Homo sapiens: one gene and its partners. Each later gene encodes a partner of the first gene's protein in a complex. Each region holds a gene or a part of one and is shown in the gene's direction. Other genes may lie near its edges. The genes, in order: MED4, MED24, MED16 and MED25.

Evidence for each region.
Region 2: MED4 (region 1) and MED24 share a complex: the UniProt entries of both Homo sapiens proteins name them as parts of the mediator complex.
Region 3: MED4 (region 1) and MED16 share a complex: the UniProt entries of both Homo sapiens proteins name them as parts of the mediator complex.
Region 4: MED4 (region 1) and MED25 share a complex: the UniProt entries of both Homo sapiens proteins name them as parts of the mediator complex.

The regions. Positions count from the first base shown.
Region 1 is NC_000013.11:48,084,687-48,089,324, reverse strand, and holds part of MED4 (mediator of RNA polymerase II transcription subunit 4), read left to right. Parts: intron 1-2,872; coding exon 2,873-3,043; intron 3,044-4,638. UniProt on the Homo sapiens protein: Component of the Mediator complex, a coactivator involved in the regulated transcription of nearly all RNA polymerase II-dependent genes.
Region 2 is NC_000017.11:40,020,317-40,023,856, reverse strand, and holds part of MED24 (mediator of RNA polymerase II transcription subunit 24), read left to right. Parts: intron 1-461; coding exon 462-726; intron 727-1,030; coding exon 1,031-1,212; intron 1,213-1,372; coding exon 1,373-1,463; intron 1,464-1,802; coding exon 1,803-1,902; intron 1,903-3,503; coding exon 3,504-3,540. UniProt on the Homo sapiens protein: Component of the Mediator complex, a coactivator involved in the regulated transcription of nearly all RNA polymerase II-dependent genes.
Region 3 is NC_000019.10:879,031-883,668, reverse strand, and holds part of MED16 (mediator of RNA polymerase II transcription subunit 16), read left to right. Parts: intron 1-1,954; coding exon 1,955-2,110; intron 2,111-3,520; coding exon 3,521-3,732; intron 3,733-4,638. UniProt on the Homo sapiens protein: Component of the Mediator complex, a coactivator involved in the regulated transcription of nearly all RNA polymerase II-dependent genes.
Region 4 is NC_000019.10:49,827,921-49,832,558, forward strand, and holds part of MED25 (mediator of RNA polymerase II transcription subunit 25), read left to right. Parts: intron 1-528; coding exon 529-627; intron 628-1,049; coding exon 1,050-1,170; intron 1,171-1,865; coding exon 1,866-2,028; intron 2,029-2,167; coding exon 2,168-2,298; intron 2,299-2,590; coding exon 2,591-2,678; intron 2,679-2,773; coding exon 2,774-2,967; intron 2,968-3,412; coding exon 3,413-3,541; intron 3,542-4,015; coding exon 4,016-4,101; exon of another isoform or gene 4,102-4,179; coding exon 4,180-4,237; intron 4,238-4,387; coding exon 4,388-4,495; intron 4,496-4,638. UniProt on the Homo sapiens protein: Component of the Mediator complex, a coactivator involved in the regulated transcription of nearly all RNA polymerase II-dependent genes.

The DNA.
Region 1 (4,638 bases):
AGGGCAGGGAAATCTGACGGACTCAATAGAAAAGTGTCAGTGAGCCTCAAAAGGGGAGGAGGGGATCCAGATGAGGCCACAAGCTAGGAGAAACAGCTAACCTTAGGGGTAGTAAGGTTTTTGTTTTGTTTTTTTTCAAAAAAGAAAGAGGCTAGAGATAAATATGTTAATAGAAGACTACTAGTCTCTCAGGTACTCTGTTAATACCCGTGGGATTAAATAGGAATTTATACAAAGTATGCAAGAAGTAAAATGCAAGGCTTGACTTTATTTGATAGACACTTATTAAATGCTTGCTATGAGCCAGGCACACAGATTATTCAGAAGGTGATAATTAAGACCTATAATCAGCACTGATCTTTCTTGCACTTTTTAAAGAGTAGCAATTTGTGAATTGTGTCTTAGTACTGTGGATTCCTATGTAATTTTCATTGAAACTGTTACTATTAGAGAGGGATGTGCCCATTTGAAAATTTTCTAGCCACCATTTTATTTGGATATTTATAATTTTATATAGAATTTTAGAATTAGAAAGGATCTTAACGATGTTCAGTTCAACCTCCTGTGAGAATAAGCTCCAGGGTGGACGGATGAGGTAGAGGTTAATGGTGAGTGGAACCAGAACCTAGGTCTTCTGACTTTAGTTGAATAATTTTTTTCTACTGAACAATAAGATCTAAAGAGAATATTTTTTACTCATGGGTAGTATACAAATTAATTCAACCTGTGTAAACTTCTTGAAAGTTGTCAGGGAACTACTGTGTACTACTTGCTTTAATAATACAGCTTTTATAGAAATGGAAACCTAGCTTTCTCCTACGATGTGGGAGGAATGAGGATTAGAAGTCTGTTAAATAAATAGAATATACTTTACTTTTTACAGAAAAAGCTTTCTGTTGTTATTTAAAATACTCTTAATATTTGGCAGTTTGTAGCTCAGTCTTTTGTCTATTGTATTAGAAGAATTCCTATAAAATGAGAAGAACTTCATGTCAAAAGGATCTTGAAGAGGCATACCTGTACTTTTTAGTCTTCAACAAATCTTTTTAAATAGTTTTAAAATTGATTCTGAATTTTGATAGATATTTTCTTTCTGAAGTAGTATTCTCTACTTAGCACAGTAAAGGATATTTAGACTAGACTTGCATCTTAATTCTGTACTGGGGTAGTGATCGTAATAACTAGCCTTTGCTGAACTCTTCCTGTATGTACTTAAAGTGCAATATATCATGAATCCTCACAATAGCTTCATGTAATGGCTACTATTAATATTATATTCCTTTTCCTATTAAGAACACAGGCTCAGAGAGGCTGGTAACTTTCCCTGTGTCACACAGCTAGCAGATGGAGGACTAGAGATATGAACCACCAGACTTTCTATTTTATGTGTTTTAGCCTTCATGGTTTTTGCCGTATCTGCATACCACTTGTTTGTTTACTGTTTTATGAAATCACTGTATTTTTTTTTTTTTCCTGAGACGAAGTCTTGCTCTGTCACCCAGGCTGGAGTGCAGTGGCGTGATCTGGGTTCACAGCAACCTCCGCCTCCTGGGTTCAAGCAATTCTTCTGCCTCAGCCTCCTGAGTAGCTGGGATTACAGGCATGTGCCACCACCCCCGGCTAATTTTTATATTTTTAGTAGAGACGAAGTTTCACCATGTTGGTTAGGCTGGTCTCAAACTCCTGACCTTGTGATCCGCCTACCTCGGCCTCCCAAAGTGCTGGGATTACAGGCATGAGCCACTGCGCCTGGCCGAAATCACCGTATTTTTAAGATCATCTTCATTGTAAACAATACTGTGCATAAACTCAGAGTTTCAGTGTCTCAGTTTTTTCTAATATATATTAGCACAAATGTGTAAGTGTAAAAGTTTTCTTAAGTTCTTGGTGCCACCTAAAATCATCTCAAATACCAAATTTTGGGAGAACTTTCATTATTTATATATACATATATATATTTGCGATGGAGTTTCGCTCTTGTTGCCCCGGCTGGAGTGCAATGGCGCGATCTCAGCTCACCGCAGCCTCTGCCTCCGGGTTCAAGCGATTCTCCTTCCTCAGCCTCCTGAGTACCTGGGATTATAGGCATGCACCACCACGCCCAGCTAATTTTGTATTTTCAGTAGAGATGGGGTTTCTCCATGTTGGTCAGGCTGGTCTCGAACTTTTGACCTCTGGTGATTCGCCTGCCTCGGCCTCCCAAAGTGCTAGGATTACAGGCGTGAGCCACCGCGCCTGGCCTATATTGTATTTTTAAGGATAAACTTTTTTTTTTTTTTGAGACAGTGTCTTACTCTGTCACCCAGGCTAGAGTGCAGTGGCGTGATCTTGGCTCACTGCAACCTCCACCTCCCAGGCTCATGCAATTCTCCTGCCTCAGCCTGCTGAGTAACTGGGATTTTAGGCGCCACCACACCCAACTAATTTTTGTATTTTTAGTAGAGATGGGGTTTCACCATGTTGGCCAGGCCAGTCTAGAACTCGTGACCTCAAGTGATCTGCCCGCATCAGCCTCCCAAAGTTCTGGGATTACAGGCATGAGTCACTGTGCCCAGCCATAAGGATAAACTTTAAAATCGTGTCTTCCCTAGGAAATCACTAAACTTGCTCATGTTGCCATATTGCTAGTTCTGAAAGGCTAGTTTTATTTTGTTTTGTATGAAAGAATATCTGAAAAAGTAGAAAAGTTTGATATTAATGTTTCCCAAAATAATCATAGGTAGGCTCTTTTTATTCTTAACAAGAATTAGGAATAAAATTTTGAAGGTGTTGAAATTTATAGCCTAGCCAATTCAGTTACGGATTCTTTGTTTCATTGGAATGCAGCCTTTCAGTAGTCTATTGTCTGATTTAATTGACTGTTATCTGACAGGTCCTGGAGTTGTTAATTCACCGAGATGGGGAATTTCAAGAACTAATGAAATTGGCACTTAATCAGGGAAAAATTCATCATGAAATGCAAGTTTTAGAAAAAGAAGTAGAGAAGAGAGACAGTGATATTCAGCAGCTACAAAAACAGCTAAAGGAAGCAGAACAAATACTGGTAAGTTGACAGAGGTTGGTTCTTAAGGTTAAAAAGGATGTTGTTTAATCTGTTTCTGAAAAATCTGTTATCAATATTTTGAAGAGCAGAAAACTAGACTTTCCAAGTCTAAAGGTGATATCTTGTCACTCACCATTGCCAGTGGTTAAATGAAAGGCTATTGTCATTCTCTTTTTTACTTACTGTTTTCAAATAGTCTGCATTACTTGTGAGCCACATTTTCGATGCTTAAAGATTTTACAGTATTGAATTATAGAAATGGAAAGTTTTACTTTTATCCTGGTCTGATATAAATTTTAATTATCAGTAGTCTAAATCTCTCTTTTTTTTTTTTTGGTCTCTGATCCTTAGCATAAAAATCAGGGAAATTTTTCATTTTTTATATATTTTGAAATCAATAAAAATATATACACATTTTATAAATTGATTAAAATTGACATTAATTTAGTCATTCATCCTCATCTAGGTAGGATTTGGACATAGATCAAGGATCCTAGTTTTCCCTTTGCTGTTCTTGGCTACTATTTCAAAGAGGCAACTTATTTGCTATTATTTGCCCAGTTACTTCACTAAATACTAACTAATATAACATGATAGTATTGCAGAAATAGCTGAGCTTGATTCTCATGTCGACCAGACATTGCTGGCATCCTTACCACTGATTAATCTCTTAACAAATGTATTAAAATGAGCTCCAGTAACTAGAAGCCTGGGCAGTTCAGGGTAAATTAATCACCTCTACTAAGGAAACAACTCACTAGTAAATAGTTTTTAAAAATATATTAAAATCAGGCCGGGCATGGTGGCTAATGCCTGTAATCCCAGGGCTTTGGGAGGCCAACGCAGGTGGATCGCGAGGTCAGTCTGTGATTGAGACCAGTCTCAGTTCGAGACCAGTCTGGCCAACATAGTGAAACCCTGTCTCTATTACAAATACAAAAAATTAGCCAGGTGTGGTGGTGTGTGCCTGTAATTCCAGCTACTCAGGAGACTGAGGCAGGAGAATCGCGTGAACCTGGGAGGCATAGGTTGCAGTGAGCTGAGATTGCGCTATTGTATTCCAGCCCAGGCAACAGTGCAAGACTCTCAAAAAAAAAAAAAAAAAAAAAAATTAGCTGGGCACAGTGGCTCACACTTGTAATCCCAGCACTTTGGGAAGCCAAAGTGGGCAGATCACCTGAGGTCGGGAGTACAAGACTAGCCTAGTCAACATGGTGAAATCCATCTCTACTAAAAATACAAAAAAATTTAGCTGGGCATGGTGATTCACGCCTGTAATCTCAGGTACTTGGGAGGCTGAGGCAGGAGAATCTCTTGAACCCGGGAGGCAGAGGTTGCAATGAACTGGGATCACCCCACTGCACTCCAGCCTGGGCGACAGAGGGAGACTCTGTCTCAAAATATATTATTTATATGTTTGTATATATTATATATATATTAAAATCTGTAAATATGTATATAAAAATCCTTATGTATGTAATACTTGCTTATCAAACAAAATTCAGAAAATACAGAAAAATGGAAAGAAGAGGGAAAAAATTGTCTTTAGTTCAGCTGCGGAAAGAATGCCACTATTCATAGTTTGGTCTATTTCC
Region 2 (3,540 bases), on another chromosome or scaffold:
GCCGGGAAGAGTCCTGTGGGGCAGCCCTTGGGCCTCTCCTGGAAGGAACAGTTTACTTTGGGAGGAGGCCAGGGCTGGGCGGGGACCCCCAAGCACTCAGCCTAGGGGGAAGTGATTGTGTTTATTTATGTGGCAGGTTGGCAGGGCCCAGGCCTGGGGGATGGGGGAAGTTGGAGAATAAAAGAAAATGTGAATATCTGGCTGGAATGGCCAGGGGGAGGAAAGTCCCTCCCCAGTCCCTATTTATAGGCTTTGTGTCCTGCAGGTGAGAGACCTGCCAGGAGCAGAGCAGGGGCCAGGTCACCCCGGGGTATACCGTCCCCCAGCGCAAAACTGGGTTAATGCCTCAGGGAGATTTCCGTAACCTAAGTCCAAGGGAAAGTCTGGCATGGGTGTTCCCTCCTCTCCCTCCCCACCCTACAGTGGCACCTGAGCCTCAGGTTCTCTCGGCCCTCCCCCAGGGTGGTGATCATGAACTCGATCCTGGAGCGCATGTGTGCCGACGTGCTGCAGCAGACAGCCACGCAGATCAAGTTTCCCTCCACCGGGGTGGACACAATGCCCTACTGGAACCTGCTGCCCCCCAAGCGGCCCATCAAAGAGGTGCTGACGGACATTTTTGCCAAGGTGCTGGAGAAGGGCTGGGTGGACAGCCGCTCCATCCACATCTTTGACACCCTGCTGCACATGGGCGGCGTCTACTGGTTCTGCAACAACCTGATTAAGGTACTTGGGCTGGAGTGGCTGTGGGCCGACATGGGTCCTGTCCCCTGGCTCCCCACACCTGGCCTGGTCTGCCAGGCTTCCCTGAGAGGCTGCCGTGAGCCAGGTGGCCTCCCCGGAATGCCTCGCCTCAGAGTTGCCTCCTTGGGGAGCTCTGGCCAGAGACTGGGATTCAGCCTGAGGGGCGGAGCAACATCTGGGGCCCCCTCTGCGGGCCTTACTGGACAGCCATGCTGGGGTGGCAGGGTGTAGGAGCCCCAGATCCCGGGCCCCTGGCTCCTGAACTGCCCCCTTTCCTGCGCACTAGGAGCTGCTGAAGGAGACGCGGAAGGAGCACACGCTGCGGGCAGTGGAGCTGCTCTACTCCATCTTCTGCCTGGACATGCAGCAAGTGACCCTGGTCCTGCTGGGCCACATCCTACCTGGCCTGCTCACTGACTCCTCCAAGTGGCACAGCCTCATGGACCCCCCGGGCACTGCTCTTGCCAAGTAAGATTCTCTTCAGAGCTTGCCCTGCTCCGGCCACCCAGGGTCAAGCACCCCTCGCCTGGTGCCACCCTGGGAGACTGGGCTTTGGGGAGCCCAGTCAGACACAGAAAGCTCCTGGGGCACCTCTCACTGTCCCCCTTTTTCTGGAACCCTTTGCCAGGCTGGCCGTGTGGTGTGCCCTCAGTTCCTACTCCTCCCACAAGGGACAGGCGTCCACCCGCCAGAAGAAGAGACACCGCGAAGACATTGAGGTAGGCCCCCCAGCTGCCCTCGCCGGCTTCACTTGTTCACCGGTTTGTTACAGCATTTCCTAAGGATTCCCCAGGCAAAGGGAAGCAGTTGTGGCCCCTGCCCTTGGGGCAGCTGTGCCTGGGCATGATTGGTCAGGAATCTGCATGGGTGATTTGTGTGGCCCCAGCTTGCCCATGGGCACAAGGGGCCTGTCAGATTGTGGGAGGGGTTGAGCAGAGAGGGGCTGAGGCCCTGCTAGCCATGCTGACCTCGCTCAAATCGGAGCTCAAGCTCTTTTCCCTGACAGCTGGAAACTGGGGGGTTTAGGGGTGTATAACAGTGACTTTCACTCCCTCTAGGATTATATCAGCCTCTTCCCCCTGGACGATGTGCAGCCTTCGAAGTTGATGCGACTGCTGAGCTCTAATGAGGACGATGCCAACATCCTTTCGAGCCCCAGTGAGTGTGTGGGCTGGCCGCGCGCCGCTCCTTTTCCTGGGAATTCACTCCCCGATGCTGCCACTCTGCCGCTGCCCCAGCTGCAGGCATCTTTGCAGCTGGTCAGAGAGGGTGTGGCAGGGACCTGCTGTTCTAGCCCCCAAGGGGGTGCTCTGTGTCCTGCCCCTGGAGAAGAGGTTGCTGTTCTCACTCCCTGAGGGTTGAAGCTCCTCTGCCCAGGTCCAGCCCAGCCCACAGTTGTTCCCCCACAGCCCTCCTGCCCCTCCCTTACCCCAGGGTTGAGGGGATGACAAGCTACCCAAGTGAGTGAGTTCACTGCCTCAGGCACAGCCTGTGCCATTGACTCACCAGCTCTGACCTTCCTTCCTTCCTTCCCCCAAAACATGCCCGGAGAGGCCCGGGCTGGGGCATGGGGCTACTCCCCACCTTCCTGCCTAAAGAGCACACCCCCCACCAACCACTTCCCTGGAGGTCATCCTTTTCACTGTCCCCTCCTCCCTGCCAGGCTTACTGCCAAGGGTTCCTTCTGTGGCATTTTTCCTGTTTCCAGAGATTTCTCCTGAGCCTGAACTTTTCTCTGAAGCCTTTTAGGAACTAGGGGACCAACTATACACTTGATCAGAAGAAAGATGCTAGGTTTGCCAGCTACAAGTGCTGTGACCTTTAGCTAGCGACTGAGCCAGCCCCCGTCTGGGTCTCCTCATCTGTAAATGGGGTGTTGTGAGGAGTAAGCAGCTTAGGAAGTACCAAGATCGGCCCCTGGCCCTGTGTGCTCACCACATGTTAGTTTTTCTCTCTCATTCCATTGGGATCTCTGTATCTGAGGTCCCTCTGTGCCCTTTTTTTGTTTTGTTTTTTGTTTGTTTGTTTGTTTGTTTGTTTGAGTTGGAGTCTCCCTCTGTTGCCCAGGCTGGAGTGCAGTCGCACGATCTCAGCTTACTGCAACCTCCGCCTCCTGGGTTTAAGCAATTTTCCTGTCTCAGCCTCCTGAGTCTCTGGGACTACAGGCGCCTGCCACAACGCCTGGCTAATTTTTGTATTTTTAGTAGAGACGGGGTTTCACCATATTGGTCAGGCTGGTCTCGAACTCCTGAACTCAGATGATCCACCCGCCTTGGCCTCCCAAAGTGCTGGGATTACAGGCGTGAGCCACCACGCCCAGCCTGTTTTTCTGAGACACGGTTTTGCTCTGTTGCTCAGGCTGGAGTGCAGTGGCACCATCTCGGCTCACTGCAGCCTTGTTCTCCTAGGCTCAAGCAGTCTGCCTCAGCCTCCCGAGGAGCTGGGACTACAGGCGTTGGCACCACACCCAGCTAATTTTTGTATTTTTTGTAGAGATGAGGTCTCGCTAGTTGCCAAGGCTGGTCTCAAACTCCTGGACTCAAGCGATCCTCCTGCCTCGGCCTCCCAAAATGCTGGGATTACAGGTGTGAGCCACTGTACCTGGCCTCCCTTTGTGCTCTTGATCTCAGGGTCTTCTCTGGGCTCTCCATGTACCAGTTACCTCCGATGGGTGAAGGTCGGGTTGGGGCATCCCCGGGGAGCACCACTTTTGCACTCGGCAGGCTGTTTCCCAGCGCTCCATCTGCTCCGTCCCACAGCAGACCGATCCATGAGCAGCTCCCTCTCAGCCTCTCA
Region 3 (4,638 bases), on another chromosome or scaffold:
CCGACACTCCTCCTCGTCTCCTGCAGCCGTCCTCACCTGCTGGCCCAGCTGTTACCCGCCCGAGAGCCACGTCTCACACACATGCCACAGCCTTTCTCAGGTCTCACATCCCTGGCAGCTGGGGGTCACTGGGACAGTCCCCACCGCACCCATCTCTCCCCCATCTCTCCCCCTACCGCCCCACGTGCCCACCATGCCAGGCTTTGGTCCCCGCCATGCCCAGCTCTTCACGCACCGCCCCACGTGCCCACCGTGCCAGGCTTCGGTCCCCGCCATGCCCAGCTCTTCACCCACCACCCCACGTGCCCACCGTGCCAGGCTTCGGTCCCCGCCATGCCCAGCTCTTCACCCACCGCCCCACGTGCCCACCATGCCAGGCTTCGGTCCCCGCCATGCCCAGCTCTTCACGCACCGCCCCACGTGCCCACCATGCCAGGCTTCGGTTCCTACCATGCCCAGCTCTTCACCCACTGCCCCACATCCCCACTTAGCAGCTTAGCTTCTCCCTGCCTCAAGTCCCCCCTCATTTAGGAATGCTGACCGCAGCCGTCAGTTGGATGGAGGAGGGGATGTAAATCGTGCTGTGAGGGTACCCTGGCCACTAGCTGGGGGTGTGGTCGTCATGGCAGCTGCCTCCCCCGGCGCTGGGGCGTTGAGTTTCCTGTCTTTCCTATGAGAGGCTCAATTCCATGAGGGCCAGCCACCCCTGACCACTGTGTGCCCTCTGGGCGTCTCAGCCACTCTCTGGGCCTGTTTCCCCCCAGGGAATGCTGCTCACAGGACCCCTATACGGGTTTGCAGGAGGTCAAGGCTCTGTGACCGTGATGGCCCGTCCGGGGCAGAGACCTCATGATGCGGGTGGCACAGAGCAGCTGCGTGGTAGTCAGCTTCAGCCGAGTAACAAGCCAGCCCCAAACTGAGCAGCTCAGGCCAGCAGCCCTGCACTGTTTCTGTTTCTGTGGCTGCCTCAGCTGCGCTCTCCTGGTTCCCACGTGTCTGCGGTTAGCAGCCGAGGTGGCGTGGCCTGTCCACTGGCCGCACATGCTCCAGCAGGCCGGCTCCAGCTGCCCTCCGTGTCCCACATGCAGCCACAGCAGGACCCCCCACACGTGCTCTCTGGGCCACTGTTTTTGTTTTTTGTTTTTGAGCTAGGCTCTTGCTGTGTTGCCCAGGCTGGAGTGCAGTGGCGTGATCTTGGCTCACTGCAGCCTCATCTTCCTGGGCTCGAGCAATCCTACCTCAGCCTCCTGAGTAGCTGGGACTACAGGCGTGTGCAGGCGTGCATCACCACCACACACAGCTAATGTTTACTGTGTTTTTTTTGTAGAGAATGGGGTCTTGCTGTGTTGTCCAGGCTGGTCTTGAACTCCTGGACTCAAGCCATCCTCTGGCGTTGGCTTCCCAAAGTCTTGGGGTGGCAGATGTGAGCTGCTGTGCCCGGCCATGTCACATTTGCTAAGGCTTGGCCTGAGATTCCCAGAAGTCTCTGCCCTGTTGGGAGGAGCTGCGTCTTCACGCAGGGGCTGTCAGGCAGCGGATCTGTGGGTGCGACCATCCCGCATGGCTTTATTGGAATTGTAGATGAGGAGGGATGGGAATCCCGGCTGAGCTGGCTAAGGCCGAGCGAGTGTTAGGGTTTGCATGGCTGCAGGTCTGAGGTGGCGCCGTCTCCCCACTGTCTGCCCCATCGGGGGTGAGATGGTGCCGGCCCACAGGTTTCCATGAAATCCCAGGGCCCACCTTGGGTCACGTGCCCATCCTGGAACCAATGAGTGGCCGAGGCACGAAGCGCTCGGATTGGCCGGGCCTGGTCTTCTGGGCATGGGAGCAGGGCGGCATGAGACCTGGGAAGGGCCCTGGGCAGGTTGCACACCAGGCCATGCTGGACTCCTGCGGCTGTCTCAGCCTGTCTTTACTCCATTGCCTTCCTGTTTTCCTGCCCCTGATTTTTCAGTTGGCGACAAACAGCCCACAATTCTCAAATGGCGGATCCTATCGGCCACCAACGATCTGGACCGTGTGTCGGCCGTGGCGCTGCCCAAGCTGCCCATCTCGCTCACCAACACCGACCTCAAGGTGGCCAGCGACACACAGTTCTACCCTGGCCTCGGTACGGTGGAGCCAGCGGCAGCCACGCGGGGCCTCAGTTCACACCAGGGGAGTTGGGCCCTGAGCACAGGCCACGGGGTCGTGGGAGCTCACACCAGAGGACGTGGGCTCTGAGCACAGGCCATGGGGCTGTAGGAGCTCAGCCTTCTGGGTTCTGATGGGTTCCCAATTAGGAGGCAGATCTCATCTTTCGGGATCTGTGAGGCTGGCAGACAGATCCAGTGTTCTTTAATATGTAAAGAGTCATTGCAAATCAACAAGGGAGCCTGGGGAACTTGGTGGAACTCCTTCCTGGGTAGGCGGCATGTGTCCTCTCTGTGCTGCAGCAGCCATAATGTGGTCCTGAGCTCAAACCGTGGCATCCGTGCCCATGAGTGAGTCTGCACACTCTTCAGTGCCTACCCTATTTGCTCAGCTGTAAAATGTGGACAAGTCGGCCCTAGCTCAGGCCCTTTCTTCCCCCAGCTCCCGTTCTTCCCTGGTTCCCTGGAAAGAGCATTTATCAAAACCCGCTCGGGGCTCAGGGCTGTTCCTCAGAGCCTGCAGAGAGGTTGAGGGGATGCAGTTCCCTGCTCCAAAACCCTTGGTTTATGCTCCATTTTCCAGGCTCTATTTTTTTTTTTCTTTTTTTTTTTGAGTTGGAGTCTCATTCTGTTGCCCAGGCTGGAGTGCAGTGGTGTGATCTCGGCTCACTGCAACCTCCGCCTCCTGGGTTCAAGCGATTCTCCTTCCTGCCTCAGCCTCCCGAGTAGCTGGGACTACAGGCGCGTGCTGCCACGCCCGGCTAATTTTTTGTATTTTAGTAGAGACGGGGTTTCACCGGTGTTGCCCAGGCTGGTCTCGAACCCCTGAGCTCAGGCAATCTGCCCGCCTCAGCCTCCCAAAGTGCTAGGATTACAGGCGTGAGCCACCGCGCCCGGCTTTGCAGCCTCTCTACTGCAGGGACTCCTTTCATATTCTCTTTTCCATGAGCTTTGGGCTCTGGACCCCACCTCCCCCCGGCCCTCGTACAATGGCAGACCCCAGTGTGAGTGACAGCCCCAGCCCACCACCCTAAGATGCCTCTCTTTGGGACGCCAGGAGCCCCAACCCTTGGTCCCCCACCTGTAGTGCCCCCCTCCCCTGCGCTCCTTGAGGGGCGTGTCAGCCAGGACATGGGCCCAGCTGGGAGGGGCGGGGAGGGGCTGGGAGCAGTGTGGCCAAGGCTGCTGGCTCCTGCTCCCCTGGTGCTCAGGGACTGTGTAACTAAAGAAAGAGTGGCTGGGGGCACGGGCGCTGGATGCCGATTGGCGGGGGCTGACCCCCTGGATGGGCAGCCCCGGCTCTCCACACCCTGCAGAGCAGGAGGCCCCTCCCCCGGCGGGCGTGTCCTGGGCCCTGCCCATGTCTAAGCAGTGCCTGTGCCCCACAGGGCTGGCCCTGGCCTTCCACGACGGCAGCGTCCACATCGTGCACCGGCTCTCACTGCAGACCATGGCCGTCTTCTACAGCTCCGCGGCCCCGAGGCCTGTGGATGAGCCGGCCATGAAGCGCCCCCGCACCGCGGGCCCCGCCGTCCACTTAAAGGCTATGCAGCTATCGTGGACGTCACTGGCCCTGGTGGGGATTGACAGCCACGGGAAGGTGAGCTGCTGGGGCACGTGGGGCCGGGGCTGGTGGGCATTGACAACCAGGGGAAGGCGAGCTGCTGGGCATTGACAACCAGGGGAAGGTGAGCTGCTGGGGCACGTGGGGCTGGCCCTGGTGGGGATTGACAGCCAGGGGAAGGCGAGCTGCTGGGGCACGTGGGGCTGGGGCTGGTGGGCATTGACAACCAGGGGAAGGCGAGCTGCTGGGCATTGACAACCAGGGGAAGGCGAGCTGCTGGGGCACGTGGGGCTGGGGCTGGTGGGCATTGACAACCAGGGGAACGTGAGCTGCTGGGGCACGTGGGGCTGGGCTTGGGGGGCATTGACAACCACGGGAAGGTGAGCTGCTGGGCATTGACAACCAGGGGAAGGCGAGCTGCTGGGGCGTGGCCCTGGTAGGCATTGACAACCAGGGAAAGGCGAGCTGCTGGGGCACGTGGGGCTGGGGCTGGTGGGCATTGACAACCAGGGGAAGGCGAGCTGCTGGGGCACGTGGGGCTGGGGTTGGTGGGCATTGACAACCAGGGAAAGGTGAGCTGCTGGGGCATGTGCGGCTGGGGCTGGTGGGCATTGACAACCAGGGGAAGGTGAGCTGCTGGGGCACGTGGGGCTGGGCTTGGTGGGCATTGACAACCATGGGAAGGTGAGCTGCTGGGCATTGACAACCAGAGGAAGGCGAGCTGCTGGGGCATGTGGGGCTCGGCTTGGTGGGCATTGACAACCATGGGAAGGTGAGCTGCTGGGCATTGACAACCAGGGGAAGGCGAGCTGCTGGGGCACGTGGGGCTGGGGCTGGGGCTGGGGCTGGGGGGTATTGACAACCAGGGGAAGGCGAGCTGCTGGGGCACGTGGGGCTGGGGCTGGGGCTGGTGGGCATTGACAACCGGGGGAAGGTGAGCTG
Region 4 (4,638 bases), on another chromosome or scaffold:
TCCTCATGATTAAAGACAACAAATGTCGGCCGGGTGTGGTGGCTCACTCCTGCAATCCCAGCACTTTGGGAGGCTGAGGCAAGTGGATCATGAGGTCAGGAGATGGAGACCATCCTGGCTAACATGGTGAAATCCCGTCTCTACTAAAAATACAAAAAATTAGCCAGGTGTGGTGGCAGGCACCTGTAGTCCCAGCTACTCGGGAGACTGAGGCAGGAGAATGGCATGAACCCAGGAAGCGGAGCTTGCAGTGAACTGAGATCATGCCACTGCATTCCAGCCTGGGCGACAGAGCGAGACTCCATCTCAAAAAAAAAAAAAAACACAGACAGCAAATGTCCCCTGTCCTGTCTGGGACTGGTGCTGTGCTAGCACCAGGGATTGGGTAGGGAACTCAGCAGGGTCCCCGTCATCCCAAGGTGCATAGCCCAGGATAGAGTGGGGGACAGCATGGGAGCAGGCTCTTCAAGCATAGCCTGGGGATGGGGATGATGGCAACCCTGGGGGCTGACCGCTCTGCCCCTGCAGGTTCATGGGCGGGGGTGGTGAGAGCTGCAGCCTCATCGCGGAAGGACTCAGCACAGCCTTGCAGCTGTTTGATGACTTCAAGAAGATGCGCGAGCAGATGTGAGTGCCCCCTCCACCCAGGCCGGGCCGGTCTCTCTCTGCCTGGCCTGGAACCACTTTGCCTGTCGAGTGGTTCTACCTCCAGCCTCACCCTGTAGGGCATGGGCTCTGTGTCCCCAAGCACGCTGAGCCAGGAGGCTGCAGGTGTGTCCTTGGGGGACGCCTGGCCAGTGCCCGGTCTCAGCATCCCCATCAGGAAGCAGTGCCAACTCTGGGTGTCACTCCTGCCTGCCCTGCCTGCTGGGTGACGTAGAGCACATCCCAGAACCTCTTGGAGCCTCAGTGTTCTCAGCTGTAAAGTAGGGGCGTTGCTTCTGATTCCATGTGAGGCGGAATATGTGCATCTCCGCTGGTGCTGGGTCTGGGTTCCTTCTCAGGGCCTCTGTTGCTGCTGGCTCCATGTCTTCTCTCTTTCCTGGTAGTGGCCAGACGCACCGGGTCTGCCTCCTCATCTGCAACTCACCCCCATACTTGTTGCCTGCTGTTGAGAGCACCACGTACTCTGGATGCACAACTGAGAATCTTGTGCAGCAGATTGGGGAGGTGAGGACTCCAGGGTCTGAGGGACGAGGGTCTGGGGGCCCGGAGTCTTGGGTCTGAGGCAGGAGGCACTGAGGGCCTGGACTCCTGGGTCTGAGGGAGGAGGCACTGGGGGCCTGGACTCTTGGGTCTAAGCGGGGAGGCACTGGGGGCCTGGACTCAGACACAGAATAGTCACAGACTGGTGACCAGCTTTGCTTACTCTCTTTTCGAAACAGTCTGGCTCTGTTACCCAGGCTGGAGTGCAGTGGTGTGATCTTGGCCCACTGCAGCCTCTGCCTCCAGGGTTCAAGCAATTCTCATGTTTCAGCCTCCCGAGTAGCTGGGATTATAGACGCCCGCCACCACGCCCAGCTGATTTTTGTATCTTTAGTAGAGATGAGGTTTCACCATGTTGGCCAGACTGCTCTCAAACTCCTGGCCTCATGTGATCTGCCTGACTCGGTCTCACAAAATCCTGGGATTACAGACGTGAGCCTCCACACCTGGCCCACTTAGTCTTACTGACAAAACTAGAACCCAGAGTCTCCCGGGGCAGGTGATACCTGGTTTCAGGGTCTCCTGCCTCAAAGCCCAATGGGAATTGTGGTTGTAGGGCTGGTGCCGTCCAGCCACACAGCAGTTGTGGTAGGTTGGGGGCCGGCCCCAACACCCTTATGGAGGGGGCCCGTCATGACTGCTCGGCCCCTCTCCTACAGCGGGGGATCCACTTCTCCATTGTGTCTCCCCGGAAGCTGCCTGCGCTTCGGCTTCTGTTTGAGAAGGCAGCCCCCCCGGCCTTGCTGGAGCCGCTGCAGCCTCCGACAGATGTGAGCCAGGACCCGAGGCACATGGTGCTGGTTCGGGGACTCGTGCTGCCTGGTGAGGCCTGGGCACCGTGCGCGGGGATGGGGGCTCGACGTGTTTCCCCAGCTCCCTCTGACTTGGATTTTGGATTTCTCTCCTTTCTCTGCATCTTGAATCCCTTCTCTCTGGGGTTGGCCATCCCTCCTGCTCTCAGTTGGGGGTGGCTCAGCCCCAGGCCCCCTCCAGTCAAAGCAGCCAGTCCCCCTGCCTCCCGCCGCACCCTCAGGTGCCACTCTCTCAGCAGCCCCCCAGCAGCCTCTGCCCCCCGTCCCCCCGCAGTACCAGGTATGGATATTTCCGGGAAGGGACATGCTTCTGGGGACTTGCTGGAGCCCTGGCCCCTGGGGAGAAATCTAGTTGCATGTTGGAGCTTGTGGGATGATGGGAGTCCCATGGGACATTGGGAAGGTGGGACTCTTGGGGCCATGGAAGCTCATGTGCTGTGTGATGGGTGTTGTGAGCTAAGCTATCCCAGCTGGTGCCTCATGGGGCCATGGGTGGTGTGACCTCGTGGGATACCAGGACTGGGGGGCCATGGTCCTCACCAGTCCCTTCCCTTCTTCCCTTCTACCCACAGGTTCCCGGGAACCTGAGTGCAGCTCAGGTGGCCGCGCAGAATGCAGTGGAGGCTGCCAAGAACCAGAAGGCTGGGCTGGGCCCTCGCTGTGAGTCCTGGAGTGAGGATGAAGGGCGGGCAGGGGCCAGGCAGGCCTCTCTCCACACACTTGTTCCCCACTTCTTCCCTTGGTCTCTCCCACAGTCTCGCCCATCACCCCTCTCCAACAAGCTGCTCCCGGAGTGGGTCCCCCCTTCAGCCAGGCCCCAGCTCCCCAACTACCCCCAGGACCCCCTGGCGCCCCCAAGCCACCACCTGCTTCCCAGCCCAGTCTGGTCTCCACTGTGGCCCCTGGCTCCGGCCTGGCTCCCACGGCACAGCCCGGGGCACCGTCCATGGTAGGTGCCTGCACGCCTCCTGCCCCTGCTCCTTCCTCCTGCTGTCCACAGCTAGGACAGTTAGAGGATGAGTCATTTGCCTTCCAGGGGGATGTGGCTCTCGTGGTTCTGGGGCTTTGGGGGCTCGTGGTGTGTGTGCTGCAGATGCCTGAGATGAGGGTCTGGGGACAGAGTGGGGAGGCTCATGGCTCCAGGAGGGTCAGGGCTGTTCCGAGAAACCCAAGGAATCCCTGGGTCTGGGAGTCCAGGGCATCGCACAGCTTACGAGTCCTCGAATCCTGCAAGGTCCAAGCATTTGGGGTCCTGCGGCTGGCCAAGTGCTGTTCTGGGGATGGAGGGGCAGAAGAAGGGATCTTTCCTCCTTCCTGGTTTGCCCTCACAGGATGGCCCCCGGAGGCTCCCGGCCTTCCCCATTCTCATGGCCCTCCTTCCTCCCCTCTGGCAGGCAGGCACTGTGGCCCCAGGAGGGGTGAGCGGCCCTTCCCCAGCCCAGCTGGGAGCCCCAGCCCTCGGTGGGCAGCAGTCAGTCTCCAATAAGCTTCTGGCCTGGAGCGGGGTCCTGGAGTGGCAAGAGGTGAGGGGCCTGAGGGTCCATTGGGCACTTGGGACTCCTGGGGCCGTGGGGCTGGGCATGTAGGACTCATGGGGCCAGATGCGTGGGGTCTGCAGTGCTGGGTTTGGAGGCATTCGTTGCGCTGGACCTGTGGGATGCGGGGCGAGGCCAGGAGCCCCATGGAGTGGTGGGACTTGCGGTACAGAGGAGAGTCCCCATGCAAAGAACCCAGAAAAGCCCAGGATTTGGGGCCCAGAGAAGAGCCCAGGCGATGTATCATCTGGGGCACAGTGGATGGTGGGATTTAGGGGCCGGGCACGTAGCTGTAACATTTGAGGAACTGAAGGCTTGCTGGTCTGGAGGAGGGGCCTGGGGCTCATGGGACTTAAACTGGGGAACATCCTGAGCTTTGGGGCTACCAGGGTAGGACATGAGGGCTCAAGGGGACTGAGGCTTATGGCCCTTTTTACTGACATGCTCTTTTTTCCCCCTCAGAAACCCAAACCTGCCTCAGTGGATGCCAACACCAAGCTGACGCGGTCACTGCCCTGCCAGGTCTACGTGAATCATGGCGAGAACCTGTAGGTGACAGTCAGGGGCGGGGTGTGGTGGGGCTGGGGCTGGCCCCCTCCTCACACCTCTCCTGGCATCGCCCCCAGGAAGACGGAGCAGTGGCCCCAGAAGCTGATCATGCAGCTCATCCCCCAGCAGCTGCTGGTGAGTGGCGGTGGAGGGCCAGCCCTGCTGCCGGGCAGTCCTCACCCTGCTGTCTCTTTCCTGTTCCCTGCCCCACCCCCACTCCCTGCCTCATGTCCCCGCCTCACTTGCCCACACCAGCATGCCAGCCGACTTCTGTGTCTCCCGCAGACCACCCTGGGCCCTTTGTTCCGGAACTCAAGGATGGTCCAGTTCCATTTCACCAACAAGGACCTGGAGTCTCTCAAAGGCCTCTACCGCATCATGGGCAACGGCTTCGTGAGTCCAGGGCATGGGGGGCCGAGGGGTGTTGACTCTTGTCCTGCTTTCTGCTGACCTTTGACGGGAATCCCAGAGTGCCTGGGCCCACGGAAGCCGTTTTTGATGGTTGGGTGCACTTCATGCCCTTAGGTTCCTCGCCT